Regions from separate parts of the Homo sapiens genome. Here all the other regions are linked to region 1. Evidence: fine-mapped expression QTL. A gene starts in region 1. Each other region holds a variant in brackets. All regions are shown on one strand. Distances are from middle to middle.

Region 1 (10,573 bases):
GTCTATTTGATACAAGAGCAAATCACCTCAATTCCTTAGTGGAATGAGTGGAGTATAAGTAAATAAATGAGACACAGGAATTTAAAAACAGGTTCAGTTCTATCAGAAGGAAACAAAGGATTGGGACATTTGGAAACCTGGTTTAATAAAAAATGTGACAAGACAAAGAATTATGTGTGATAACTGTAGAAGGAGGAAGAATCCTCCCTAATATAAAATGTCCATGAAATAGTTGTTTTCTTCTTTAGGAAGGAAGATAATTTTGTAGCTTAAGAAAAATAGTTCTCAATTCTTTGAAGTTGGAAGACGTATATTGTAAAATGACTATTTATTTACTTTTACCTCCACCAAAAACAATTCAAATTTTCAGTGCTCTTTCTATAATTCATCACATTTTAAAATCTGGGTAGGAATTTCAGATTCCATTTTGGGGAATGGGTTTGTTTGCAGGGGTGTCTTTTTTTGTTGTTATTTTTGCATGTTTTACTTCAGCCGTAAAGTTTTTGTCTTTTATTTGTTTGTTTGTTTTGAGAGGCAAGATACAGACTCGAAAATGCTCTATTTTTTCTTTTATAACTAGTTTACTTTTATCTCAGAGAATTACACAAAAATGTCATACTGCATTTGACTTTCTAATTTTTTATTAGACTGTCTGAAGTGTTTTTGATGAACTATTAATAAAGTTGTTATTCTGTGTTAGGTTTAGGGTTCCAGCTGAGGATGAAAGATAAGTTACAACAAATTTTGTGCCCTGTAGGAGCTGGGAAGTAGCAAAGTGATTCTTAAAATGAAATTTCATGATGTCTTGCATTCACCTATGAGGACTTTTTTTTTTCAGTGCCAGGGTCTTGCTCTGTTGCCCCACGCTGGAGTGCAGTGGCGCAATCTCGGCTCACTGCAATCTCCACCTCCCAGGTTCTAGCAATTCTCTTGCTTCAGCCTCCCGAATAGCTGGGACTACAGGTGCATGCTACCACGCCCAGCTAAGTTTTTGTATTTTAGTAGAGATGGGGTTTCACCATGTTGTTCAGGCTGGTCTCAAACTTCTGAGCTCAGGCAATCCACCCACCTCAGCCTCCCAAAGTGCTAGGATTACAGGCATGAGCTACAGCTGAGGATTGTTTAACACGCAGATTCTCAGGCCCCACCCTAAAAAGACTGACTCAGAATCTCTGGGGATGGGATTTGAGAATTCACAATGTAATAGGTTCTCTCTGTGATTCTAATGAAAACTATAGTTTGATCTAGTGAAAGTTGGAGGGTAAAGGAATAAACAATTTACAATGTGACTGGAGCCCAGGAACAATGTAAGATATAATAGTAACTTCTAGGAAAGAGCCACTATCTCTACCAAGGGAAATCTAAGTGAAGGCTTAATATAGAAGCTGACATTTGCGTGGTTTTGAAAACGTGCCTTGCCAAGCAGAGATGGAGGGTGTGGCAGGGGGCATCTCAATGACTCATGTTGTCAATGATATTTTCACTAAGAGAAATACACAGTGTATACTCACTAAATGCTTTGCCTAGGAAGTTTCTGTCTGAAGCCTTCCTCCTCAGCCTCTATTCTGTGTTCTTCAGGGATTTCAGCGACTTCATTTTCGTTGATGGTTCCGCACCAGGTTTTGAGGGATTTTAATGGTTAAGAGGCACTTGAATGTAATAAATATGTATATACGTACATATATGTAATAAATACATGAGTGTATACACACACACACACACAAACAGGCATACCTCACAGATTTTCCAGGTTAGGTTCTAGACCAAACCAATAAAGCAACTATTGCAGTAAAGTGAGTCACACAAATACTTTGGTTTCCCAGTGCATATAAGCATTATGTTTACTGTAGTTTATTAAGTATGCAGTAGCATTATGTCTGGAAAAATAACTAACACACCTACTTAAAAATACTTTATTGCACCTGGGCATGTCGGTACATTCCGGTAGTCCCAAGCCACTCAGGAGGCTGAGGTGGGAGGATCCTTTGAGCCCAGGAGTTCCAGGCCAGTCTGGGCAAACATAGAGAGACCTCCATCTCTAAAAAACCCCCAAAACTTTATTGCTAAAAAATGATAATGATCATCTGAGTCTTCAGCATGTTATCTTTTTTCTGGTGGAGGGTCTTGCCTCAATGTGAATGGCTGCTGACTGATCAGGGTGGTGATTGCTGAAGGCTGGGATGGCTGTGGCAATTTCTTAAAATAAAACAAAAATGAAATTTGCTGCCTTGAGAGACTCTTCCTTTCATGAACGATTTCTCTGTGGCATGTGATGTTGTTTGCTAGCATTTTACCCACAGTAGAACTTCTTTCAATACTGGAGTCAATCCTCTCCAACCACTGCTTTATCAACTAAGTTGACGTAGTATTCTAAATCCTTTCTTATTATTTCATCAGTATTCACAGCATCTTCACTGGAGTAGATTTCATCTCAATAAACCACTCTCTTTGCTCATTCATAAGAAGCAACTCCTCATACCTCCAAGTTTTACCATGAGATTGCAGCAGTTCAGTCACATCTGCAGGCTCCACTTCTAACTGTAGTTCCCTTGCTATTTCCACCACATCCTCCACTGGTCTTGAACCCCTCAAAATCATCCCTGAGGGTTGGAATCAACTTCTTCCAAACTCCTGTTAATGTTGGACATTTTGACCTCTTCCCATGAATCATGAATATTCTTAATTGCATCTAGAATGGTGAACCTTTTTCAGAAGGTTTTCAATTTACTTTGCCCAGATATATTAGATAAATGACTATCTATGGCAACTATAGCCATATAATATATATATATATGTATATATATATGTATATATAGGTATATATATGTATATATATGTATATATATATGTGTGTATATATATATGTATATATATGTATATATATGTGTGTATATATATATATATATATTTTTTTTTTTTTTTAAGATAGGGTCTCATTTGTGGCCCAAGCTGGAGTTCACTGGCACAGTCATACCTCCCTGTAATCTTGAACTCCTGGGCCCAAGGGATCCTTACATCTCACCTTCATGAGTAGCTAGGACTACAGGCACACACCACCACACCTGGCTAATTATTCTTTTTTTTTTTTTTTTTTTTTTTTTTTTTGTAGAGATGGGGTGCCACTATGTTGCCCAGGCTGGTCTTGAACTCTTGGCCTCAAGTGATCCTCCTGCCTCAGCCTCCCAAAGTGCTGGGATTACAGGTGTAACCCACCATGGCCAGCCATGAAATGTATTTTTTAAATAAGACTTGAAAGTTGAAACTACTCTTTGATCCATGGGCAGCAGAATGGATGTGGTACTAGCAGGCATGAAAACATTAATCTTCTTGTATATCTCCATCAGAGCTCTTGGGTGACCAGGTGCATTGTCAATAAGCAGCAATATTTTGAAAGGCATCTTTTTTTCTGAGCAGTAGATCTCAACAGTGTGCTTAAAATACTCAGTAAATCATTCTGTAAACAGATGTGCTGTCATCCAGGCTTTGTTGTTCCACTTATAGAGCACAGGCAGAGTAGATTTATCATAATCCTTAAGGGCCCTAGGATTTTCAGAATGGTAAATGAGCATTGGCTTCAACTTAAAGTCAGCAGCTGAAATAGTTCCTAAGAAGAGAATCAGCCTGTCCTTTGAAGCTTTGAAGCCAGGCATTGACTTCTACTCTATAGCTACGAAAGTCCTAGATGGCATTGTTTTCCAATAAGTGTTGTTTCATCTACACTGAAACTCTTTGTTTAGTATAGCCACCTTCATCAGATATCTTAGCTAGATTTTTTTTTTTTTTTTTTTTTTTTTGAGATGGAGTCTCGCTCTGTCGCCCAGGCTGGAGTATAGTGGCGCAATCTTGGCTCACTGCAAACTCTGCCTCCTGGGTTCACGCCATTCTCCTGCCTCAGCCTCCCGAGTAGCTGGGACTACAGGCGCCTGCCACCACACCCGGCTAATTTTCTTTTTTTTTTGTATCTTTTTTTTAGTAGAGACGGGGTTTCACTGTGTTAGCCAGGATGGTCCCGATCTCCTGACCTCATGATCCGCCCGCCTCATCCTCCCAAAGTGCTAGGATTACAGGCATGAGCCACTGCACCTGGCCTTAGCTAGATCTTTTTGATAACTTGCTGCAGCTGCTTCACCAGCATTTGCTGCTTCACCTTACAATTTTATGCTCTGAAGATGGCTTATTTCCTTAAACATCATGAACCAACCTCTGCTAACTTCCAACTTTTCTTCTGCAGCTTCTTTACCTCTCAGCCTTCGTAGACTTGAAGAGAGTTAGGGCCTTGCACTCGATTAGGCGTTGGCTTAAGGGAATGTTATGTCTGGTTTGATCTTCTATCCAGAACATGAAAACGTTTCTTTACCAGCAATAAGCCTCCTTCGCTTTCTTATCATTCGTGTGTTCACTGGAGTAGCATTTTTACTTTCCTTCAAGGACTTTTCCCTTGCATTCACTACCTGGCTGTTTGGTGCAAGAGCCCTAGCTTTTGGTCTGTCTCGGCTTTCAATATGCCTTCCTCACTAAGCTTAATCATTTCTAGCTTTTGATTTAAAGTAAGCTTTTGATTTAAAGTAAAATGATTCTTTTACTGGAACACTCAGAGGCCATCGTAGGGTTATTAATTGGCTTAATGTCAATATTGTTGTGTCTCAAGGAATGGGGAGGCCCAAGAGAGGGAGAGATATGGAGGAAGGTATAGGGTTGGTAGAGCAGTCAGAACACACACATTTATGGATTACAGTCGCTGTCTTATATGGGTGCTGTTTGTGATGTCCCAAAGTAATTATAATAGTAACTTCAAAGATCACCATAACATATACAATAATAATGAAAAAGTTTGAAATATTGTTAGAATCACCAAAATGTGACAGAGACATGAACTGAGCACATGCTTTTGGAAAAATGGCGCCCACAGATTTGCTTGATGCAGGGTTGCCACAAACCTTCAATTTGTTAAAAAATGCAATATCTGGGAAGCACAAAGATGTATGCCTGTTAAAGGTTTTAAAGAAGCCATTTTTTTTAAAAGAGAAAACTTTTAAGAAGCTTTACAGATAGAAGACAGTAAGTATTTGTTGACTAAATGGTCAAGTTGGAGTGAGCAGATTTTATAATTTTATTCTACTAACCACCACCAGCAATTTTATTTTTGATGCTTGTAGATGGACAGTGGTGCCAATGTCTATTCGGCCTTCTGTTTTTTTGTTTTGTTTTGTTTGTTTTTTCCTGCCAAAGGACGGTGCTTAGAACTTCCCAGTCTTCCTTGTAGTGGGGAAAATCTGTCACCCCAAGGATACGAATTAGGTAGAAAAGTAATGTAAGAGCCAATCACAACGCGCGCTCCGGAGCGGCTCCAGACTGGCTTCGCCCGGACGACTGGCGGAAGACGAGACTTCGTTACCTCCGTTCAATCGGACAAAGAAGGCCATAATAGTTTAGGACAAGAGAAAATTCCTTGTGGGTTAAACTGCGGTGGGACTGACTGTTACGCAGAAGGCGTAATCGCAAAACTTGTATACACTCTGTATCATGGATACATTATTTTCTGGAATCCTGCAGAAACGATCAGCAGTTGTGATGGCACCAGTACCGAAAATGGCTGTAAGGCGCTCCGGACGCTGGATCAGGTGACGCAGCATCAGGTGACGCAGCCTCAGTCCGCCCCCTTCCCACCAGTGGCTCCTCCTCCTGCTTCCCGGCGTAGCGGTGGGCGTGGCTTGCCCACAGGCTCTTTCTTCTGGGGCCGGGAAAACCGAGGAATACACATGCGCAGTTGGACCCCTCAGGCCCTTCGTGTCCCTTCCCACCCATCTCCCCGCCCCGGCCCTCTGGGCGGGGCTGGGCCGACAGTCCAGCTGCAGCTCGCTGGAGATTCAGTGACTTCCTTGTTGTGAGCCCCGGCCCGGCAGTGTCCCGACTCGTAGCCCCGCTGTTCTTAATCCGGGCCGCTAGCCTGAGTCTAGGTCGCAGCCGCAGCCCCACCCCGTCGGTCACCTTTTCAGCGCAGGTCCTTTCCCCGCACGCCCTGCGCTCCCTAACATGCCCAACCCCAGCAGCACCTCCTCTCCCTACCCCCTCCCTGAGGAAATTAGGAACCTGTTGGCAGGTAAAGAGCGGGAAGGCGGCGATAATGCTGTCGGGGCGGGGGCGAGGGAACGGTGAGCCGGTGGGGACAGAAGCATTCAGAGCCCTTATCCTCCCTCCCCGCGCTTCCCACGTCTTCTAGCCAGTGGGGTCGGCACAGGGAGGAGAGGAGAGGGGTTGTTTTGTCTCAGAAAGGGAGTGGACGTGTGTGTTGAAATTTGGTGCGGGGATGGTGGCGAAGCCCTTTTTGGTGATCTACACAAATGGGATCAGGACGTTTCTATGTGCATTGTGAAGACGGTGTGTGTGTGTGTGTGTGTGTGTGTGTGACAGAAGGGCGGGGGAGGAAGAGTGGAAGAGGGAGAGAGAATGATAATGATAATGAATGCTGCGTGAGCAAGCAGAAGGGAGCAGAAGTCAAATAAGTAGTTCTTGGGTGGTCTGGCCAATGGAGGTAGAGGATGTAGAGATGCAAAGAGCTGTCAGAGCCACAGGTGTTAGGGGTTATGGGGTGAAAGAGTTTGTCATTTCTAAAACTCCCGTTTTTCTTAAACATTCAGCTCACTCACGTTTAAGACTTTTGAAGAAGGTCTGGTTCTCAAATGGCCACTTGTCCCCAGCCTCAGTAATATATTAAAGCAAAAAAGGAAGGATATGTTAAAGTTCTACTTCCTGTGTGACACGATGAAAGTACTTCATCTTTGTACCCTTATCTTCCCTTTTTCAGTTTTACATTACCATTTATAGGAACTTATTTTAGGAGCTAAAAACGTGGTTCTTCAGTAGCATTATGAATCCACTACTAGTTCATTAATTTACTGGATACGGAGGTGTGTATGTTCACTAAGAACCAATAATTTATATTTCTGTACAAGGTAGAAAATATATGTTTTTAAGGTAGCACAAATCTTACCTATCTCAATGTTCTGGAATTTCAACCATCATTTATTTTGTCTTGTGTACGTCAGAATTCTGGAAACTGAATTTTGATTTTTAGTTTTAGATGTCTATAAAATATTTATCTCTCAGTATTGCTTATGAATAACTAGATTACAGATTGCTTATTCTAGCTCTTAAAAAGCAATGTCATCTAAAATGTGACATTTGATGACACATTTTATATGTTACTCCTATAGCAATGTGAGTCCAAATCTCCTAATATTCTGTCATTCAATTTTGGTGCTTGGCATTATTAATATGGTAGTGTAATATTAAGTGTATGAATGTAGACTTATGTTTGTATGATTATGGTACAGTATGTTGAATGCATTTGTGGTGGGATAGTCTTTCACTCTAAGAAATGCTTGTTGTCATTAACGGGTACCACTAAGGGAAATAGTTAAAGAAGTCTAAAGACTGACTTCAGGCAGCTTTATTGCATCACATGACTACTGATTTTGTTTTACTACACTTAACATTTTTTGTTTTTACAATGCTGGAATTGTTTGTTCAGAATATTATTGTAATAACCAGCGCAGAAAAATGTTTATCATTATTCCAAAAATAGATGAAACCATTTTCAGGATATTCTATGTCTGTATTTTTGAATTTAAGAAATAACATATAGACCTCTGGGTGCATGTTTTAAAGCTTGGTACCTCCCATAGTACAGTTTGTTATTTGGATCCATAATCATAAATCACAGATAATATGATATGTAGGTCATGAGAACCTTTATTCTCTTATCCCCATAGATCACAAGTATTTCCTGTGGCCCTTATTTGTGTAATTTAACTAAAAACTCAAAATTACATATTTAAATTATCTGCCAATGCTAACTTCCAATATATTTCTGCCTTCTCTCTTTAGTCAGGTAATATACTAGCATAGCATCTGAAATTATTTTAAGTCATTTTATTGACATTTTCACTATTTTATATTATTAAAGCAAATCACATATTAAAACACACATGAAGTATTAAAAAATATTACAATTAAAACTTTTGGAATTGGAAATTTGGATTACACTTTATTTTCAGAGGATATTTTCAAGAAGTATGGAAGTGAGTTGGGGCGTATTTATGTTTAAAGAAATTTAACAAATCAGTGTTTTTCAGGTTTTAAAAAAACTTATTTGGAAAGTTGCTAACATTTTATGTTTGACTGTAATTAAAATCTTTTTTGAGGTAGAGAACGCTTCAAGAATAGATGCTGTCAGCAATTGTTTCATGTATTTCATCTAAAAATATTGTTAGCATTGTACATGATTCTTTTCATAATTCAAGTGTATTGGGTAATAGTATATGACTAGATTTAGAGTAACATTATAGAAGTATTTATATTGGTTTGAATATTAGAGATATTGCTGGCTTATTTAGTCTATTTCTTTGAAACTGAGGAGATATTGGTAATGGTGTTGTAGTTAACAGTTGAGTGCTCTTAGAATGCATGGTACTATGCTAGAATTCCAAGGTAGAGAAGATAAGGAACTAAACTTTTCAGGGGTTTAAAGTCCTTTGTTTTTAGAAAGAAGAATATATAATCAAAAGATAATGACTGTTAAAATAATGTTGCTTAGATGTATCTGTTTGTGTTCCATATGCCTATTAAACTAAATCATTATATGTCATATGTACTGTTTGAAATTTCACCTGCTTAAAAGGGATAGGTACTCAAGTGTATTCTTATTTATTATTTTTCTTTCTCTTTATTTTTCTGTCTGATTATGGCAGTTCTATGCTATACTTTCAACATTTGTTCCCTCTCCCTTTTTCCTTCCCCTATAAAAACCATTCCATAGAAATGTAAAAAAAAAAAAAAAAAAAAAAAGAGGTTGTTATTGTTAACTCACATGTGTTGTGTAAAGATACCATTGAAAAAGTGGCTATCTAGTTTGATTTTTAGTTATATTTTCTGTGGAGTCAGTCTTGAAGACCTATGCTTTTTATAAAATGTTGATTATTCTTTTGGTTATATGAACAGAAAAGGACTTACAGAATTTCGTTGTTGAAAGCAAATTTTGAGCTGCCATATGCATTACAGGCAACCTTTGATTTTTTTCTTTTCTACAACAATGGAAAAACAGGTTTAGCCTGGATAATTGAAATCAAAGGACAATCCCAAATCTTGTCCATTTAATCTTCTCTCACATCCAAATATTTTGACTAGGACTAGCAGCAAGAATAATCTTGATTTATGTGATTTTTTTTTTTCTCTAGACAGGCAAGAAAGTAAGAGGAACTAGAACCACTTCCCTCCAGCCTCCTTCATTTGTTTAATCACCCTTTAAATAATGGTTTGTTAGTGGCTTGCAATCAGACCTTCTCATTCATCCTCATTCATTTGTTTTAGGACAACAAATTTTAAAAGGAAAGCTCTAAGAAGATGTTATTTTCTGTTTACTAAATTAGCAAATGAAACCATTGTTAAAAGAAGAAAATAGTGATTGTTAGTGCTCTGAAAAATCAAACCAAACCAAACAAACAATAAATAAGTGATCTTGAGGTTTTGTTCACATGGCACTCTTGATTAGAAATACCACATTTTCCCTACTGGGAATTTTTAGAACATTAGAAAATTTTTTCCCACACATTGATTATAATGTGTGAATATTTTTTTCACACAATATTATTTAGGGTATGTAATCAGTCCCCTAAAGGGATTCCTGTAGGGGCACTAGGTGAAGAGTGCAATTTATTTGAAATAGAGGCAGAATTTTTTCAATGCTGAGTATATTACGGTTTAATTTCCACCTTTCCAAAGTTCCATTTATAATTTGGTCAACATTTTGGTTTTATTTTTCCTATGAGAATTATTTATGGTGTATCTAGTGTCCCATAACTTCCTTCTGGGACATTGGCTGAGTATGTAAAGGGAAGAGTGCCACCTACTGAGTCACCAATAGTCACCTACCTCCTTAGCACCTGGGTTTTCCTATGGAGCAAGAACAAGCCTGCCCCATTTGGGCAGCAATCACTAAAGAGCATAAAGTTGATATGAGAACATTTAATCTCAAAATGAAATCTATCGTACCTCCAAGATATTCTTTTCTAGAAATAGGAATATATGTAAATTAAGGGACTAGAGGTTTACAGAGTTTTTTGTATGGGCTAAATAATATAGATGAATTAAGATGTGGTGTTAGGAAAATTATTTGCCTATTTTAAGTATATAATGTCCTGCTTTTTCTTGGGAGGAGATCTTTTGGCATGGCTGTCCATTGAAAGTATTTTCATCTCATTACTATATAAGGCTCTTGATACTACGTACAGTTTTTATAGCTACCCAATCCAAATTATCATTGGTTTTCTTCAAAAAGAAGAATCTAAACATATTAAAAAATTAGCATTATATGAAAAATTTGCAAATGGGCTTATTGCTCCTGTTACCAGCATTAAAGTATTACTAGAAAGAAGGTAGACACAACAGAGTAGGAAAAGCTGCTGGTGATTTGAAACACAGTTTAGTTGTCTCATAAATTTCAGATTAAGTGTCATATATGGGTGATAAAAGTGGCATAGGCTAGATTTTATATACTCATGATTCACTTAGTTTG
Region 2 (10,573 bases), 210 kb after region 1:
TGACTTGAAAAATCAACAATAGCGTCAAACATGGCTTTCCTGCATTTAAAGATATGAGAACTGAAATGAAACAATGATCAAATAATTTCTCCTTCACACCGAAATCTAGCAAGGGAAAAAAATGTTGATACTCAGCATTGGCTGTAATACTACTTGAAATAATTTTAGTGAGCCCTTGGTATTATTATTTATAACAGAAATTGATGCAAATAATCCTAGAGGAGTTTGAGATTTGATTCTCCTTTAATTTTCAATGCATTTTTTGATCAAGTCATTGACTTCCAAGCTATGGTCAATTTCTGTTAATGGTGATTTTAATCACAGAGATGTTACTTCTGTCTATAAAGTTTCTAAATAAACTTTTCTCATGATATTTAAAACCACCAATCTGCTAATAATAGTCTTTAGGTATATGTTGTAATATTTTTTTAAACTGACATTCTAAGGAAAATTTTTGTGCTGACTTCCTTTGCCCATTGTCTAATCCTTTTATGAACTGTTTCTTCCAGATGTCTATCTATGAATGTTTGTGTGTGAATACACACTTTCTAGTTAAAAAACATCAGATGCATATCTAGGAGTGACACAATTTTATTTTCTCTAATTAGCCTTGTAATATAGCACTAATCTTGGTTTGTAGTTTGTGAAAATATGGGGCTAGAAATGAGGGCAAACCAGAACCTCGTTACATGTAACCTTAATGCTTTAATGTTATAACTTTAGGCAAAGCTAATAAAAGATGCAAAGGACTCTTAAATAATTTAAATTATCTAAAAAATTGAGCATATTCCTTCAAATAATAATGGCTTTCATGAACTGATTTTTTAAAAATTCATTTTTCATGTGAATTACTTAGAAGATATCAAAGTAAGTTTGAGTTTATTTAAGATTATTAAGTATATTTGTTATGCAGAGTCGCTGAAGATTCCATTTTCTAGTCTAGCAATTGTAATCTATAGCGTGATGTAGTACATAATTCTGGTAACATCGGATGATGTCATGGTAGTATAGAGTTAATTCTTAGCACTTCTCTTTAAAACGGTGCTTTGTGATGTGATTCCTTGATTATTTTGAACCATTAATCAATTCTATCAGCTTAAAAAATAGACACATTGTGTACCTGTTACCACTGGTTTCTAAAATCAAAGTTTCTCTTACCATCTTAACCTTACCAGTTTAAGCTGGGAAACTATTACTTTTATAATGTGTTTATATTATTATCATTACATACTCTTTGATAAAGGAAAACAATGGGACTATACTAAATTGTGGCAACTGTGATTAAAGATAAGTCTGTTTTCTAAACTTTTCCTAAGTGATTATAGTAGAGAATTTCAAGCTATAAGTATACCATCCTTTGCTTCTCCTAAAGCTATGATCTATAGCAATAAATACTCTGTATTGATACTACTTAATTTTAATGGATGTATACTGAGGCTGGAAACATATTGTAGCTTAGCATTTAGTGCCTTAATTTTTAAACAGTTTTGAAATTTTAAAAATTGATATAATTGCCTGAATATTTTGTTATTGGACCCGTTTCATGCTAGAAGATTATTCTCATTTCACATCTTTCCTAAAAATTATGTTGTTCACAATGTATTTCTACTGACACTTCATTGCTATTTTTGCATAACTGAAAATCTGTCATTTTCATTTTAGCTCAGTTTGGAAACATGAAAACCATATCAGAGCAGCATATTAAAGATTAGTATAGAAACACACAAAAAATGAAAGAGCCACATAGAGATAAATTTAGTCACATTATTCAAGTGTGCCATTTTAATCCATTAATCTGGTTTGAGGCTGCTTAAGAGAAATATTTCTCTCTGAATGAGTTTTTTCTCTTAAAAAAATGTTGAGAAGAGAAGCATCTCATCTAAAACAATTACCATGGGTTTTTTTGTTTTTTGAAGAAAAGGGTAAAGCAAGAGCCGCCCTAAACTCTGCCATAATTTATTCTTAGTCAAAAACAGATTACCATTTACACATTAGGTATTAAAAGCTAGTTATAGTGATTAAAGGTTGTCTTTCTAATGCTATGTATTAAGATACCAATACGACATTTATTTTCAAGCTATTTTGGGGCCACAGGGGAAGTTGTTTTTCTTATGAAGGGAATTCTGTATTTTACTTCATTATTTATAAGTATATATATATTTAAAACTATACACACACACATATAACTGGGAAGGGGAGAATGGGAGCTGGTTGTTTCTTTGAATCCTAATACTGTATGTCTTCTTAATGAACCTGCCGCATTGCCCAGAAAACAGCTCCCTGCAAATAAACATGCTAGAAGTGATTTAGCCACAATGTCCAGACTGTGTAAACATCTCATTATTACAATAAAATTGTCAATAAATTTACATTACTGCTCCCTTTTCAAACGTTAACCAACTTTTTCTTCACTTGATAAAAGGGCATAAATTGTATTTTTATGTGTTGGTGTTTTTGTTTTCATTACACCTCTTGCTGCACTCTAGACAAAAGACCTCAAGCCTTAATGCCCTGAGTTATTCCTGGATGAAGAAAACTCCTACAGTTGTTTATTAATGTAATGTGCTGTGTTCCTTTCACAGTGAGATGGACATGGAGCCCTCACAATCTGATCTTTAGTCACGGCATTTTTTAAAAAGCCATAAAGCCAGTAGTATTGTAGTCACTGCAGCTTTAAGAGAGACACAAAGAATTAAGGCCCTTATAATCCACTATTAGAATGGGAATTTAAGTTACATTAGAAGCAAAAGATAAAACGGCAAAATGCAATAATTTCCTTTAATAAAGATTATGTCCAGTTTTCAGAATTATGATATCACGTCGAACATAATTGTGGAATAAGCCCCCGCCCCACCAACACACGTATTTCTTATATAACTGGTACATTAACATTAGAAAAGCAGAGTGATATTGAATTCTAATGAGGTCTGGCCTATATGCTCTGCTAGGAGAAGAATGAGGATAATTCATTTGTATTCTACAAAGCACTTGGAAATCCACGGGCATCCCTGTGGCTTCAGCACGTGGTGCTGATCATCTGTTCCTACTTGGAGTTGGTGGGGGGGTGGGGGGTGGGTATTCATTGCTTTGAACAGCATCTGAGCTGGGGAAAATAGTTAACCACTTTCTTGCTAGCTGTTGTTTCCTAATGACTATTTAATATGGTTGCTCTATGCATTTGCATTACCTATTCTCTTCAAGGATCTTAAAAATTGTGATGCCTGTGTTGGTGACAGTGCACCTCTGTAGAAGCCAAACAAAGAAAACGAAGTGAAATTCAGTAGGATAAATGTGTTTTCACCATCCTCAGTAAACATGTCAGTTTTAAGTAAACAATCAGATGACAGTGAGGTATTTGTTCATTAAAAAAAAAATCTGAAAAATGCTCCATTTGATCTGATACTGGCTGTTCAGGAAAAACTGCATTCATTTGTGAGTCTTGCTGACATTCTGAGAAAACAGCCCATTTTGGAAACTTATATTTAGTAAAACCAAGGAATGAAAGATTTTAGCAAATTGCCACGTAAAATGATCTGCACAAAAAGGCATTGGGGAAGTGAGCTAAGGCCTGTGCCAAACAGATGGCACCCCCTGCTGTGTTTTTGATTGAAAAAGAAAGGTAACATTTGCAGCCACGTCAAAGAGACAGTGATCAGCTAAACAAATTGGTCTCCAAAGTACCCCATCGCTAGAGCAAACCCCGCTGCAGGGTACAAGCGAGGCTGTATTTCAAAATAATGCTATGTTTGCGTCTTTCCTAAGTGAGGGGATATGTCCCCTTTTCATGCGGCAAAGAGAAGATGAGGTCTTTGTTGAAGTCGACTGCAGTACTATCTGCAGAATAAGCAACAGACCTCAGTAGCACAATTACCCGTTTTCTCTGATCACCGCCAAATGCCTACAAATAATATTTGGGAAGACCGCAATAGCTTCTTATATATTGTTCACTTTCCTGTGTCAGGTCTCCAGAGCTTACAGAGAGGAAATTGGTATGCAGCATACAAACAAAAACAACACCAAATCATGACAAAGGCACAGTCTGAGGAGGAGAAAGAAAGAGGAGATCAGGAAAAACTCTCCTTGCACTTGAATTCAATTGCAAAATACAAACATCAAAAATGGCAAAGTGTGTGTCAGTGCGTAAGTTGGGGCGGGGGGGGCGGGGATTTTTTTTTTCTTTGGCTCATCTCAGCTGGCAGCCTTATTCCGCTTCAGTAAAGACAAGGTACAGAAATGTCCTTTGGGTGACATTCAAAACTCGATATAAATCCTCTGCTTTATGAGACTGCAGTGCAATAAATTACTTAGCCTAATTGTAGATGTAATGAATTACCATAATTAGTCATGGGCTACATTAAATTAATCAGCATGGTACATTATTTTGCTAAATTACATCTTTGCCTTCCAAAGCCACCAGTGCAGCAATCAGTGTTTTTTGCAAGAGGGGAATGATGCTATAATGAGAAGCCTTTCTGCTCCTAGAACAGTGACAGGATATGAATTTTGATGGGAAGCAGGAAGGTTTGGAAACACTGGAGTTCCAACTTGTGCCTTAAGTGTCTTTGGTTGTTAATGATACCCCAGTCCTCCTGCAGGGGAGCAGTGGGCTGTAGCTTGCGAAGGCTGTGGAAGATTCCCCTCACAGGGGAAGAAAAACACTTAGATGGTGCTTTAAGGCAAATAATATAGCTGATACAACAAGTCACAAAGCAGTGGGGTGGCAGAAAGATAATGTCTTTGAAAATATTAATAGATTTAGAATGTTCTTTTACATTGGTTGATGAGATTTATAGTTACCAGGTATTTCTTTATGAT[T/G]ATTATTATTATTCAGACCGTTTGGATCCAAGATAAAGCCTGTAGCTATTCTTGTTTTTTACTTAAACCTCCAGCTGTTCAAAATCTTGCTTCTGCTTCTCAGTGGGTGATCTGGAGGCAACCCACATATGATCTAAATATTATTCACTCTTCAGGAAAATCTCGGGCAGCCGTGGGGTTCATAGACTCATAATCTGGGAGTATAGGTGCTTGCTTTTGTAGAAGGTCTTTTTTTTTTGCACTGGGGCCGGAGACACATCCTGGTAGATGAACCATAGAAAGTAAGAGGTACTTCACCCATATTAACTCTTTGTATGAAATATCTTTGTAAGTTCCACTCTTTCAAAAAGCAGTGCTCATTCTCAAACCCAGTTACCTGCTCTTTACTGTCCTGTGTTGTTATGAAAGAGTTTCTGCAATAAGATTCATTGTCTTGATTCCAGAATAAGCTCTTTGGGGTTTGTATAATATTTTTGATAGTTTCTTGGTTTATTTTAAGAGAAGAGCTGTAACTGATCTGCACATCTGTATAACGGAGATTCAAGAAAGGCTTTCAGAACATATCTGTGTTTTTGTTTGTACACTTGTCTGCTCATACCAGAGGAAACCAAGTTATTATCAACTTGTTTGGAAACAGTATAACAGTGGAATGACACAGTGAACGACTATGATATGAACACAATCTTTAAAGAGTGGAAGTGAATTAAAACCTAATATCCAAAAGAAAAATACAAATAAAGCTTGGTCACAGCTGTAGAAAAATGCATAGGGATGCAGAAAAGTCCTGTATTGTAATTTGTGTTTTTGTCCTGGTGGGAAGCCATTTAATTAGTGCAAGAAGGTATTGAATTTTAGCTTATCATGCATATTGTTTTCCAGCTGTACTGAGGATTGCCAAGTTTCTAATGGCCTGACCCTGTTCTGTAAATCAGCAGTAAATTGCGGCATTTACACTGAGCAAAGGCAAAGGGCTCATTCTGTTGGGTTTGTGCTGTCACAGGAACCTGGGCTAAGGGATTAATAGGCTGATGTTAAACATCTGTCCCCTGTCTTTGGGGGGACGTAAACACACAAAGAGGGAATCTAATGCCATCTACTAAAAGATCTTCAATGAGAGGAAGCCCTTGCTAACATTTCCATCCAGTGGCACCTTAGACACATTGCCTCTTTATGCTAAAACCCCACAGCACTAAGGGCCCTATAAATAGTCTCCATGTGACAGCTCAGAGAAGAAGAGAGGTTTCCTCCAGACATTAGTTGTGCTAAAAGATTCATCATTACCTGCAGTCATGAAATAAATCTTTGATACTTACAACTATAATATCCATGCTCTACGTTTTATTGCAGATATAGGTAGACAGTCATTATTTCTGACACTTTCTCAGCATTACAAGGAGTACTCTAGGGGGAAAACTAGTGTACGGTGTTACAGAAATAGATTGATATAACCACATAGAAACCAGTTACTTTACTGAGCCATTGTAACCAATACAATATTCCCTTAATGACATTAAACAGTCACCTAGATTCCAAATTCAGTGTAGGACTCCTATCTAAAAACAACCTCAGTTATCTACAAATTAAGTTGCCAAGAGGGAAATTTATTTTTTTCATCATACAATGGTTTACAAGAAATATATTCCTGAATGACAATAATTTTTTTTAGCATTCAAGTTTATTATTATTTAGGGGACATTAAAACAAGACAATGGTCAACAGCAATCACTTTATGGCACTTGTGGGGCATTAGAAATCAGTATATTGAGAAGCCTCCGCTTAAGAGGACTTGGAGTGGTTACTGTACAGTAGATACTAGTGTCACATAAATTGCAATAACATGATTTATCATACAGAAGAGGTGTTAAAGTTGTCTCTGGCCATGAGCTATTTAAGAGAGAGGCTTTTGCACAATGTTTTTGAGCCCAGCAAGTGAGTTATGGAATCCTGTAAGAGTTCCTTCTTACCTGTAAGTCACTGCTTTTAGCAGTGGTGATCTCCTCAAAACCCCTGAGCAATAGTAGGCACAGGATTTCAACCTTTAGTTACATCACTTGTAACTGACTGCCACATGCTTTACCACAGCAGCTCTAAGAGGCCATCTGATACACCTGGGGACCACCTGATATCACCAACGGGTCCCTGGATCACTGAATTCAACTAGTAGTCGCCACTTCTGAAAAGAGTTATCAATTCAAAAGGAATCTTTGTGTTTGCATATTTAAAGCCAAGATAATTATTGGTAGTGTCTGCATAACAAATGTAATTTCAATTAGACTGTTTTTCTCAATTAAAAACTATTGCTTGTGTGTAATGAGTATTCCTATTTTTTTAAGTGCATTTTTAATGTTTTTATTCTAAGAACATTAAGAGCATTGAACAAAAGATTGTCCGATTACTGTATAATGGTAACAAATATGCCAAGTCTTTCATTTCTGTGGGAACAAGTGGGGGCCAGTGGAGCAGGGCTGTGAAGGCTGATTGTTGCAGAGATCTTCAACACCAGACTAGAGGGGACAACATTTACAGTTGTACGGTTATAGAAGAGTAGGTTTTTTAAAATTTAATTTTCAAGAAAAGTTGCAAGAGGTTATCCAAACACTTCTTTGTGGCTTAATATCCATAACATTTGATAATGCTGTATTTCTTGTGTTGAAATGTAATAGCATAATGTTGAGACTTCTACCCATATTTAGGCTACTGAATAAAATTAAAAACAATATGACCTTCTGATAGCATATAAAAAGATTGATTGTGCAAGAAAAACATTTGCCATGGTACATAGGATCATTTTACCATTCTCAGGCAGATTTGAGAATTATGCAATTGAATGGAAAAATCAAACCAGAGATCCTTCCTTCCTGTGCAAACTGGTTTCCATGGCTTTCATAGTCTGGCAGTTGGGGCTACCGCTGTTGTTGATTACAAGACATTTGCTTTTGTTGTTGGTTTTTGCTGGCATCGTGTCTGAAACAGCTTAGGAAAAGTGAATATTCATATGTGTTCTCCCCATCTGACATCATTTCACCACTCTCAGGCCTCTCCATAGTGTTGCTTCTTTGTATCTGGAGAGAAGCAAGTTTTTAAAAATCACTTGTTAAAATGGATCTTGGATGTTTGTTTCCTATTTTCTAAAAGCAGGTTGGCTATTTTGCCCTTGAGCCTTAAGAAATGTGGCTCATTGGCTGTTTGTTATTTTTAAGTAATATATGGCATGTATCCAAGTAAGCATTCCAATGACCTCGACAATAAAATGTGATTCTTGGCTGCAAGGTCTGTTGGGGGATGGCAGGCTGCCAGCCACTCATACATCATTTACAGGTGGCTGTTTCTGACAGGCCAGTGTTAGTTATTGTAAATGAGTGACAGTCCCTATAACTCACCTGTAAGCCCCACTCCACTGGCCCAAAGCATCCAAGATCCCTGACCTCTTTGGCACACGTGCTTGTCTATCGTGAAGACCCCCACACCCATATCCTCACATGCACGCTGCTGCCTGCACAGGCTCATCAGTACGTGGAGCTACCTTGTATGTGATTGACGATAATTAGGTTTCAACTGCCTTCTGATGCAGAAATACACACCATTACTGCATGGCCAATTCAGCTCCTGCAGTCTTGCCTCTGAAAGGGTATTGATTCACTCTTTCACATTTTTAAAAGGTCATGGCAATAATTCCATCTGAACTGTGCTAAGTGAAAATGGTTTGTAGAAATAATATGGTTGCTTCTTAGTACCATTGTAATTGAAAACCACAATGACTTGTTTTTTTAGTATACTTTAATTACATATGTCACTTTGCTCCATCTTACCCTGATGAAGTGTTTGTAAAGTTATAACCAGCCGACCTTTTCTGTTAATGCTTTCTGACTTTTTGGCCAAGAAGACTTTTTTGTTTTCCTACCGTGTAAGGTGAAGCCTAACCAAACACTTGGGTCACACTGCCTTATTAATTTATGAATTGAAAAGAGAAGACACGAACCTTTTCCTGGGGTCTGTCATCTGCCTGCCTGTTTTAATAAGATTAGAATATATTGGCTCTGGTGAACAGGATGCTAAATTTGCTTACTTTCTGAAAAATTGTATTGTAAACAGCCTCTTCTGGGTTGGCTGAAAAATATTATCCTCGATCGTTATCAGAACATAATAAAATGAGTTTGTTATGAGAACACATAGCTCCTGTAGTGTAACCACCCTAGCAAGTGACAGGAACCTATGAATGATATAGCATAAATTGCCAGAATACTCAGACCGCAGTTTGAGGCTTTTTCCTACATCTTCAGTGTTTCTGAGGTGAAGGAGTTTTAAAGTGCTTGAATTGCATGTTTTGGGAAAGTGGGTGATCAGATTTTATGCTCTGAGCCACCCCGTATCTTTCTCCCAGTTAGAGGGGGTAAAGTATCAGCTGTTTCTAGCCTCAGAAATGAGCCAGTCATTGCACTTGCAAACTAAGGGGCATATTCTCATTGAGAGCATGGGGATTTACGCACATAATTACCATTAATGCTAATGGCATTTATGTCTGTACAGCCCCACACATCAAGATGAGAATATATTTCCACGTCTTCACGCTGTGAAAGTCCATTTAATATTATTCATTTTACAACTTATTTTTAAAGATGATGTCCATATTCTGTCATGGCATACGTATGCCTAGTTAAAAGTAAATGTGGGAAATATTGGGAAGAGATGTGATAGCTAAACTTGTTCATGTAGATGAAATATTGCTGAACTCAGATCCATTCATACTCTTTAAACACAACGCTCTATTCGGCTTTGAAACTGCTGGCACACTTTTCATACTGCTATAAATTTGTCAGCCTAATGGGACATTTTGTAGATGTTTTCCTTTTTAAGTGCTTTAACAGGAGTAGGTATTCCATTGATCCAAAAATCCAGCTCAGCGTTTCATTTCTTAGAGATGAGAATCATACATTTAATGTCTTATCAGAAATTAAGTGGTGGATGGTACCCTTCATCTCTTCAAGGAAAGAAAATGTGCTCCCCACCGAACTCTGTTCTCATCTGGCCTCTGGGAACATCTCGAGAGTGCGGCATGGTTTGCAGTTGGAAACATCAGTGGTCATCAGAATCTGAGGCTGTTCCCTCTCTTCATTGATTGTGTAGTTGTCTTTATGCATCAGGCCCAGTAGCCTATTGAAAGGTGTCTTCATGTCTATGCTGGCCAAGCAAATTCAGATCCAGGTCTTGATTTATCTTTCCAAGGACTTTGGCCATTAAAAGAAAATAATGGATCTATCCCGACTGTCCAGTCTCTGAAGCCCTGATCTTGCAAAGGGGCTATGCATTTATTTATTTTATTTTATTTTTTTGAGATGGAGTTTTTCTCTTGTTACCCAGGCTGGAGTGCAATGGCACAATCTTGGCTCACCGCAACCTCCGCCTCCCAGGTTCAAGCGATTCTCCTGCCTCAGCCTCCTGAGTAGCTGGGATTACAGGCATGCACCACCACGCCCAGCTAATTTTGTATTTTTAGTAGAGACAGGGTTTCTCCATGTTAGTCAGGCTGGTCTCGAACTCCCGATCTCAGGTGATCCGCCCACCTCGGCCTCCCAAAGTGCTGGGATTACAGGTGTGAGCCACCGCGCCCAGCTGGGGGGTTCTGCATTTAAAGCACAGACATAAGAAGGGGACAGGAGTGCTGAGGTCTTTCCTGAGGGCACCCTTCAGGTCTCCTCCATAGGTATACACAATCTCCTCTTGGGGAAAGAGAAGAGCTTTACATCTCAGAAGGCTAAAT
Region 3 (10,573 bases), 140 kb after region 1:
TTGACAGCTTAAAAAACCCCCAGAACACAGCTGTAAACCTAAAAGCCAGTGAAAAAGTAGAAGGAAATTGCTCTTATTAGCCTTATGCATTTTGTTTTGTAGGAAATCAGAGCCAACTGCTTTTTACCTTGAACCTGCTGAATTAGGATTGTGTAAAATTAAGTTACTGATATAATAGATTTCATTATCTAGTTTTTCCTGGCAGCCTTCAGTTCTGTAGACATTACATTCAAACAGCATGATAGAGGTTAGGTTAAAGTGTGAAACAGAAGCTGAGAGAAATGTAATAGAGGAACAAACACCTCAAAAATTCTGAAGGCATCAATGTGTTATAAAAACTAATACTCAAAATGATACTATGTTAAGAAAAAAATGTTATGTTTAAAAGATTTGTTTGAGAAGTTAGGCAAGTATATATTTTAGAAAGCTTTCCATCACAATGATTAACATTTTTAAAAGTTTTGGCACTTAAAGGAATAAGCTTTTGCTATTTGTGAAGTTCACCTAGATAAAATATTAGTCTTTCACAGTGCTGGGTAAATGGACTTTATAGCTTTATTTCCTATTTGATTGGCATTTTACTATTTTTGATAATTTTGTTAACAGGTATCCTTGAAACTATCCCAAAAAGCAATTGTGGAACTAATCTATATGTAAATTCTTATGACTTACCACATAATGGTGAAGTTTCTCTCTCCAGAAGAGAAACTAATGTGAAAGGAGGAGAACAGTGTTGTCTTATAGCCATGTCTGCCCATTTCACGTCTTGAACTTCCTGTCCTGTATTGGCTAATTGGAGATATGGCTACTTCATGGTTATGGTTCTGCAAAAGCTATTAGAAAGAGTTGTGAGTTTCCTCTGTTCAACCTTTCTGGGCCCATATCCCTACCCGACTTGGATGTTTATATAATTGTTTATCCTCAAATACAAACAATCAGTTGGATAGGTCTAGATATTAGTTTCTTTTTATTATTTTTACTTGGTTAAACAACAGCACATTTTGTTCTGCAAAGTTAGGTCTTTCTTTGATGGAATGAAGTTTTCTTTTGCTATATTATGTCTTTGGTTATTGGCATTTATTTATTACTCTTCTTCCAGAAAACCCATTTTTCTTATGTTGTATTTTTGTCAGCCCTCCATATTTATCATACTCCCTTTTGTCCCTTCCCCATCCCCTTATTCTTATTTTCTATCTGCTGAGTGAGCTTTTCAAGGTATATCTGATCTGATTTTCCACAATGTTAGTTCTACTTTTTATCACTTCTAATACATCATTTGTTTTGCTGCTGCATTTTCCACTTCCTTATACAGCATATTTGTTCCTTATTTTGCCAGTTTCATTTTAATTTCTACTTGTCTCAGCCTTTCCTCTTTTTATTTTATATTACATTGTTTCATCTTTCATCTCTTTCAGAATCTGTTTACTTTTATAAAATATGCAAAGCAGTTGGCTAAAGTTTACCTTCATTTCTCCTACTTCGCTTGTGCTTTCTACTTCTCAAGTGCTATGTTATGTTTCTGTTTTACATAATATTTTTATGGCATCTGTATTTGCTGTTCCTCTTTTCTTATCCTCGAACAAGTACATGTCTATGAAATCTGAGATGCTTACCTATAAATTGGATTTGTGGCTTCTCTCTGGTTCATCTCAGTAGAGGCTGATACTGTCCTCCTCTTGGACTGTATCAGAAGTTCTGATACATAGCCCCATAGCATATTTCTAGGGGGTTTGGCTAAAATGAATCTGCTAGTCTGAGTTGGGGTTGCCTAATTTTGCTGCCTAATTGTCTTATTTCTAGATTATTAGATAATCTGGCCCAGAAAGATCTGTTCCCCTCAGCTCTTCCAAACTAAATCTTTATAGTGCTGATTTTATATCTCCAGGTGTAGACTCCCACTCCTCATGCATTTCCACCTGCATTCAAGTTACATTGATGAGAATTTTAGACCGAAATTGGAGGTAGAAGGCATAGGTTTTAGGTCAGATGGACCTGGTGAGTGGAGCGATTGAACCCTTGCGCAGCAAGGGAGCAGCTTTCCTCTAAATCTGGTCCCTGAAATTTCTCTTTCTTCTGGAGAGTTTAAGGAACTCTCTCAAAATTGTCCAATATGGCTTTGATATTTTGCCTCACATTACTTCCACTTTTCGTAGTGAACATTAAGTTCCTTTTGCAATTTAGTAGATCATTGGGAAGGTGGCGCGAAAGATCTGATAAGGTGTTCTAGCTTTTATCTCGGCAAACCTATAATGCTGCGTGCTGGTTTTAAGTGCTTGGTATCAATTTGTCAAATGAGTGAGTGAATGATTTAGTCTTTTTTTGAGAATTTACAAGAACCAACCATGCTTAACCATTTATCATTTTAATACTTTTTTCCCAATAGTTTCCTAGTTAGGTGTCTTACGAAATATATCCTGGGAGTACCATAAAATATTCTGTGAAAAATGATTCCGCGGACAAATAATTTTTGGAAATGCTGCATACTAAATTTTTCTTATAGAAGTTTAATTACTATGTAAATGTACTAAGGGCTCCAAGAAGGCCTGAACTAACAAAACTGCTTAACTCTTGTTTAATTCGGCAAAACGTTTCCCAAATTGATTTGATCACAGAAACCTATTAATATCTTTGGGAAATGCTTCTCTAATCTTTAAAGTACTGTATCGTTTTTGTGAAAAACATAGAGTTTATTGTAGAATTTTTTCATGAAATAAACTTTGATTGTTTCTTTAGACATTCAGAGAGATGTAAATTATGACTAAATGTGATTAGAGTTTCCCAGGAACTGAGATTTTTTTTCTCATTTGATATTTTGAACAAGATATAATCTCTATGACCTAACATATGTTAGTTACTTTAGGCATTTAACTTGTGTATTTAAGAAAAGGAGATGTATCTTTTATTGGTACACTGAACTGAGAAAGCACACCCCACAACACGAAAGCATTTCTGTATTTGCCCCGAGCTCAGTAAAAGAGTTTGTCCCTACTCATGGTTTTAATATTGTTTGTTAATCTAGGAAATAAACCTATAGCTGTATAGTTTTTCTATCAAAATGGTGTAACTGGGTGAAGTAGGAAGGTTGACTAATTTTATTTTCAGTTTCAGAATATTAAGTCCTTTGTTATATTCGCACTTTACTTGTCTTTAAAATAATATCTGACCAAAGCTGTAATCATCTTTTGCCTCTTTATCATGTGAGATTCAAATGTGCTTTACTAGTTTAACTGTTCACTGACTGGATAAGAAACTTTCCCTCTATTTTTGGTAACTAATGCTTCTGTACTTGCTTTACCACTCTTCTTTATCCACATAGTTTTTTTTTCCTTCACATCTTTTTCGTCATGAGTAGTTTAGTTTAGTTTTGGTTTGCTTTGTAAGGTTAGAGATAAATTTGTACCAAGTTAGGAGACCTTTTTTAAAGAAAACTTTTGTTTTAGAAGCTTCTTTTTGGTGGTGGTGCTGGGGAGGGATAGGTGAAAGGAGATAACAGTAGATAAAGCCCGACAAGTTTTCAGCTGGACAGATCTTCCCACTGGCCTACTAAATCTGAAAGAGCCAAAGGTTTGTGGTGGGTTTGTCTAGCAAGTTCTATGTTCTAGTTCCTGAATTTTCCCTACCCTAGAGTGTCATGTTTCCATACTTCCTTCCAAATAAGACCATGATCTGCAGACCTCCTTGTAAGTCCAATCATCCCTAATACTTCCATGTTTCAGAATTAAAAATGATTTCTAAAAACATTACCTAAGCATTATATTACTAAAGCAATATGACCAAAAAATGTTATTTCCAAGAATTGATGAAGAAATTTTACATAAAAGATAATTGAGCATTAATACTTAGTAAATGAAATTCTAACTGGTTTTATCTTCAACAGACAAACAACAGAAAGGTGAATTTGCAATAGATGGCTACAGTGTCAGAATGAATAACACTCTAAGAAAGGATGGAAAGAAAGATTGCTGTTTTGAAATCTCTGCTCCTGATAAACGTATATATCAGGTTGTAGTTTTTATGTTGCCTTGAAATTAAGTTGATAAAATGTTTTGATTTCATTTATAGAGACATTAACATTTGATTAATACTTTCCTTGACATGTTAACAATAATAAAAATACTGATGTTTAAATATATTATGCATTGAA[C/A]ATTCATATAAGAGGAAATTTTTAAAAATTTCAGATTAATTCACACACTATCTTCTTGAAAAAGATAAAGAGAATATATAATTTATCAATTACTTCACATGTTGCACACATGTTGCATAGAACATAGGTGATCACATGTTGCATAGCACTAGGTGATCTTCCAAAAGAATTACATAGCAGAAAGAGTAAAATTATTAAAACAAAAATATCAGAGTGATAATACATATTGTATTGCTTAGGAGTGTGGGAGAAAATGAAGGTAAAAGTACACATCAGCTCTGCAATTCAATAGCTATCAGCTAGGCATCAATATGGAATGTATGTTTAATAAGTTTTAAATATCTGAGATTGCAGTTGAAAGCCAGTTAATTAAGTTGTCAGGTAGTGTGTTGGAATCTGACAAGAACATTTTTAAGAAAACTGTGTGCAGCAGTCTAAAGAAATTCATGGGTGTCTTCTAATTGTCAAGGGCAAATTTTGTTCATCAGTTCTGTCTTTGACATTGATGAAAGAGAAGCAGCTTTTTTTCCTGCACAGCTGCCAGCTGCTGATCAGCGTTTGAAATTCATCATCCTCTGCTTCAATTGCATAAATTTGTCAAAATTAACTGTACATTATAAGAAGCATCCTTGCAAGAAAAGTTCCACTAGACATGAAAAGAATTACTAATAGTCTTAAAGAAATGGTAAGAATACAACATACCTTTCATTCCTACTATGGTGATTTTCGTTCTTACTGTTTGTTTTATATTAGTTTACAGCAGCTTCTCCCAAAGATGCTGAAGAATGGGTACAGCAGCTGAAATTTGTATTGCAAGGTAAGATAAATCAATCGAACAAGTTATCACAGTCTTTAAATACTAAATAACAGAGTAGTTTGGGTTTTCATATACAAAAGCTTATTGACTTCTGTGAGAATGACCAACTTGAATGTGACTGTTATTAATACAGACCACTCACTTCAGATTTTAAACAGCATCTTTTCTATAAGTACCAATTGGCTTACTTTAAAATTCACATATTTACAAAACAATTTTTAAACATGTTTTTAGTTAAGGACATAACATATAACAATATTGTTGTTGCTTTGTAGGGCTGCATTTATTTATAAAGTATAGTTTTAAAAATATCTTCTGCATTCTTTTAAAATTTACTTCATGAAATGTGTTTTATAGATATGGAATCTGATATTATTCCTGAGGATTATGATGAGAGAGGAGAATTATATGATGATGTTGATCATCCTCTACCAATAAGCAATCCACTAACAAGCAGTCAACCAATAGATGATGAAATTTATGAAGAACTTCCAGGTATTTACTTTCTGGTGATTCATTTAAAGATTTTAGGGCTGTGTGTGTGTGTGTGAGTGTGTGTGTGTGTTTGTGTGTGTGATTTGTCCTCGACAGCTTGAGTAGAAAATGGTGACCTATTGAGAACAAGGACAAAGAATATCTTCAAAACTCTATTTTACAAAAAGGGTTCTGCTTGAGATATTTCAAGTGAGTAGATGTAACTTACGAAAAGTGAATGAAACATTAAAATGAAGCAGATACAATACTAATCTCTTGGGACTTGTGGCTCATTAGCATTGTTTATGCTACATAATTTTTTAATTAAAAAATTGACTTGCCTTACAGTTTTTTCCACCAACTCACACATCGTTTTTTATTTATACATCTTGGAACTTCCATTAACCAGAAGTTCTATGCACACCCCAGATGTTACCAACTTCTGCCTCGTATTTCTCCTTGCTTGTAGTATATTGCACTGTCTCAGAGGAATGTTGTTGAACTATAAACAAAGGCCTTTTGAGGCTTCAAGTCTTCCTGTTGATATTTTAGCATCAATATGGAATAAAAAAGTTTTCTTATTCCAAATGCTCAGACCTAGTTTAGTGTTTACATGCCTGTCTGTTATGTAACATAAAATTAATTATCTATTAGCTACTTGACTTGCGGCCATGAGGATCAATCTAAAATAAAAAGACATCTGAAATTTAGGAAACATATGAAAACATTTAGGAAATTGTATTACTAATACTCTAGGCTGAAATGAGCTTTTTTGGCTATTAAAAAATCAGTAGTTAGAGAAGAAAAAGGTATCATAAGCAATATAAGCAAGATTTAACTAGTACATCTCATGTAGAGAGGCCATTTTGCTCTGAATATAACAATTTAATGATGTAATGTTAAACCTTTAAAATTGATTTCAAAAATACTTAAAATGTTCCAAATTAATGTACAAATGTCATTTTCAAGACAATACAGCATAATACCAAGAGTATGGACTTTAGAAGAAAAAAATTTAAATTCTGGCTGTACCATTGACTAGCTTAGTGACTTTATAAGTTAATTTCTTCATTTATAAAATGGAAATAATGTCATTGGGAGGGGTAGGTGAAGTGATTTATGGAAGGCTTTCAGCATAGTGCTTGATCCCACAATTAATTGTAACATCACCATCATTTTTGTTTTATTATTGTATCTGGTGAATTCTTGCAAGTGCTTATGTGGTGGTACAGTAATGGTTTTCTAACCAAGTAAAAAGTAATAATTTTAACAATATTATAAATTTAAGGTATAAAAACTATGTATGCATCTACATATTGTATTTTACTACCCCAGAAGATTAGTATAAAAGTATAATTTTATGGGGAATAGTGATCTGTGTATTTCAGTTGTTTAGTGGAGCTACATGTTTATTAACCCCTTCCTTTCTGGTTTACCCTAAGGAAATGGCATCTGCTGTAGCATCAGTTATCCTCAAGTAGGGAAGAATATTCCCTGGCTGCTTGTTTTTGGTCACACCATATCATTAATACAATTATTTTAGTATTTAAAAATGTTTAAAAGAACTTGTGAGAATGTATACTCATAAAATGGAAGAGTGGAATACATTTAAACACGATATTACTGCCATTACATCCTTTTAAAACCCTGCAATGAATGTGTTACATTACAATTGTTGAAATAACTGTTAAGTTCTGTATTTTTTCAACTTGGCTGTTCTCTCCCCACCCCTAAAGAAAAAAAAAATTGATCAGGAATAAAGACCAGATATTCATAGTTATTTTCATAACAAAGACCTAAGGAAGGTCTGAGTAGCTTGAAATTTTAAAAATATGAAACATCTTTTATTTTTTCTTACTGGAGATATTATTCTTCATTCTTCCTTGCCCCCCTCCTCACCCACCCTCACACATAATTGTTGGAAGTAACTGGTTACTTTTTAAGTAGTGTTACTTCTTGCTGTGGTACTGGGAGAAATTTAAGCTGCCCTGGAATTTCTTTTCCCCTGCTTGGGATCCCCAGTTGCTCTGCAAAGTGATCGAGCTTGATGGAGCCTGCACCTGTGCCCCGGGAAGGAAGCCGTTGTAGGCAGCTGTGGAATGTCTAGTTCCCTTCTTCCCCAATGTAACTGAGAGCTGCTTCAACATCTGCACGGTTCAGCAAGTTTGTCAAGTTTGTGCCAACGGCTACAGAGGGGATTTTTCTAGTAAAGGCCCTAAAGGTGTCTCAGAGTTAGAGGTTTTGTTTGATTAAATGTCTGAAACTAGGAAGGTAACTTTTTTAATTAAAACAATTGTCTCTCTTTCAGGACAAGAATTAAGCTTATTGCTTTCACTTCTGTGAAATTTGAATATAATTTTGATAGAGGAGTTAGAACAATGGAAGAGCAGTAAGCACATTTACATACTGTTGATATTTTTCCAGTTCTGTGCAAAGAACTATGTATCTCTGATATCTGACTGGCTAAATTCCCAGAATTAAATAATACTACAATTTCAACACAATTTTCTGTCAATTATGCATTGTTGAAAACTAATCCTCTTAGTTGAAAGATGAGGTATACAAATGTATTTGAAGAGAAATCTAAGCATTTATTATGCTACTTTAAATCACAAAGCTCTTTTTCTGAGAAACGAAAGCTCTTACTCTAATAAGTGTATTTTTTAAAAACTATGAAATAAACCTGCAGTGTTTTGAGTTTCAAGAGTAAGAAGAAAACGTGGTTTTAAAAATTGCAATGGGCTGGGCGCAGTGGCTCACGCCTGTAATCCTAGCACTTTGGGAGGCCGAGTTAGGTGGATCACTTGAGGTCAGGAGTTCGAAGCGAGCCTGGCCAACATGGTGAAACCCCGTCTCTACTAAAAATAAAAAAATAAAAATAAATAAAAAATTAGCCGGGCATGGTGGCAGGTGCCTGTAATCCAAGCTATTCAGGAGGCTGAGGCAGGAGAATCACTTGAATCCGGGAGGCGGAGGCTGCAGTGAGCCAAGATTGAGGCACTACACTCCAGCCTGGGCAACAGAGTGAGACTGTGTCTCAAAAAAAAAAAAAAAAAAAAAAAATTGCATTGCATAATATCCCTTGAAAAATGTTTATAATTCTACAGGAATCTAAATTGTTTCATTGTAATTGTTTTTCAGTTAGAATATTCTAACTTCATTACAGTACCTTCTGTTTAATTTCTTGTTCATTTATTTTTAACTAACTTCGTAAAGGAATAGGAATAAATTTGTAAGACTTCTTTGTGTTTAAGGGATTTATACATATGTACAAAAGAGTTGCGAGAATGCCATTTCTGGGGAGTATTAAAGGTATTTGGCTTTTCTTCAAATATCCTAATCCTTTTACATCTTTTATGTCTTATTGCTTATTAGCATAGGCCAGTCAGGTTTGTTTACATTGTAATAATACTATAGCATATTTGTGTTTGTGCAGCTAATATATTGATCAAAATGTGTTAAACTGTTTAACATGGTAATGAGTTCATTTGGCTCAGCACAGGTTTGTAAATTTATTGCTCACTTTTTCATTAGAAATACAGAGGAGTGTCTTTGTCTCATTTTGAATCTCAAAAGGGGAAAATAATACTCGTGAAATTGCTGCAGAAACCAACCCTGTTTGCTCTTCTCTTCTATTCACTATGTCACTTGATTTTTTTTCTTTAATGGCAGGAAATTGTACAGAAACAACAACAACAAAAAGATTTTTCTAGATCTAAACTGAATAGAATCAGCCTAGTAATGAGAATGGTAACCATCCATTAACTTATTAAATCTGTAGCTTTCAGAGGGATTGCACTTGAAATGTCTTCTGGCAAGTGGACTGGAGGAGAGAGGGCAACATAAAACAGGAAGACAAATTTCTATTCCATTAACCTATTTTTTTTAAGTGTGAATTCATTTTTTTTTAAATTACAATGACAGATTGAACTATTCTGAGTCAGAAAAGGATATTTTTATCCTTTGGCCATTCAATTACATTTTAAATGTATTCAGTCCAACTATCTGCATCTAAAATAGAACATAAAGTAAAATGCAGCTATAATTTTTTTCCATGAGACTATTATATATACATAAAAAAGAACAGTGTTTGGGTACTTTAATTTGAAGTAGTTTACAGCAAATGGACACAAATGCTAATTTAGTCAATAAGTGGTTATAGGCCCCCAAAATACATTTTGGCTTTATTTTCCTCCTGAATAATTATCACTCATATTACTAAGTTAATATCAGGGTTACAGGGGACCCTGCAGTCTGTGGTATTAACATTGTTTTAAGTGATAGTAGATCCTGACTTCACCAAACAATTTTTCTCCTTTCTTCTTTGGAATGCAATGGAAAGATGTCAATTAATTTTCATAGAACCACATATATTCAGTATTTTAATATTGTTAGTCTAGGCAGCCTGCTAACATTATTTTTTCTTAAACTAGGTACTGAATGGTGAAGTTATCAATGTGGTGATATTGTGGGAATAGTTTTTCCCAAGTAGATAACTAGATTAGGGTTGAATTTTTGGATGGTGATATGGTTTGGCTGTGTCCCCACCCAAATTTCATCTTGAATTGTAGTACCCATAAAATCCCCATGTGTCCTGGGAGGGACCAGGTGGAGATAATTGAATGATGGGGGCAGTGTCCCCTATCCAGTTCTCGTGATAGTGAGTGAGTTCTCATGAGATCTGATGGTTTTATAAGGGGCTCACCCCTTTGCTGGGCACTCATTCTTCTCGATGCTGCCATGTGAAGAAGGACATGTTTGCTTCCCCTTCCGCCATGATTGTAAGTTTCCTCAGGCCTCCCTAACCATGCTAAACTGTGAGTCAATTAAACCTCTTTCCTTTATAAATTTGCCAGTCTTGGGTATGTCTTTATTAGCAGAGTCAGAACAGACTAATACAGATGGTTTCAGCTCTAAAATCTGCTTAGAGGGTTATCCGAAGTTATAAAAAAAAATGAAATCATTCATAAAATAGGGTCACTACACACATATAATATTTATTATTTTTATCTTTGCTGAATATAAATGTGTCTTTGCTGAATATTTGTTCATAGTATTCTTTATGTTGTTTCATAATATAGTATGAAGCTTTGGAATACAGTTCTGCCTGTCTTGTAGCTTTTCTCTATGTTGCCATT

Evidence for each region. PIP is the estimated chance that this variant, and not a neighbour inherited with it, causes the effect.
Region 2: its variant is the best candidate, but not a certain one, in a credible set for the expression of SKAP2 in lung (TOPMed, PIP 0.81).
Region 3: its variant is the best candidate, but not a certain one, in a credible set for the expression of SKAP2 in esophagus muscle (GTEx, PIP 0.61).

Annotation. Positions count from the first base shown.
Region 1 is chr7:26,859,890-26,870,462 of GRCh38, reverse strand. It overlaps SKAP2 (src kinase associated phosphoprotein 2), which reads left to right and starts at 5,873. Exons shown (of 13, transcript NM_003930.5): 1 at 5,873-6,100. The coding sequence starts at 6,034. RefSeq lists an enhancer at 5,306-5,635.
Region 2 is chr7:26,651,323-26,661,895 of GRCh38, reverse strand. It overlaps a transcript of SKAP2 not described here. Among named protein-coding and RNA genes, the nearest start is that of LINC02860, 19 kb to the right of the region's middle. The variant T/G (reference allele first, on the strand shown) is at 4,816.
Region 3 is chr7:26,720,311-26,730,883 of GRCh38, reverse strand. SKAP2 (src kinase associated phosphoprotein 2) reads left to right here. Exons shown (of 13, transcript NM_003930.5): 7 at 3,878-4,002; 8 at 4,898-4,961; 9 at 5,319-5,456. Among named protein-coding and RNA genes, the nearest start is that of LINC02860, 88 kb to the right of the region's middle. The variant C/A (reference allele first, on the strand shown) is at 4,145.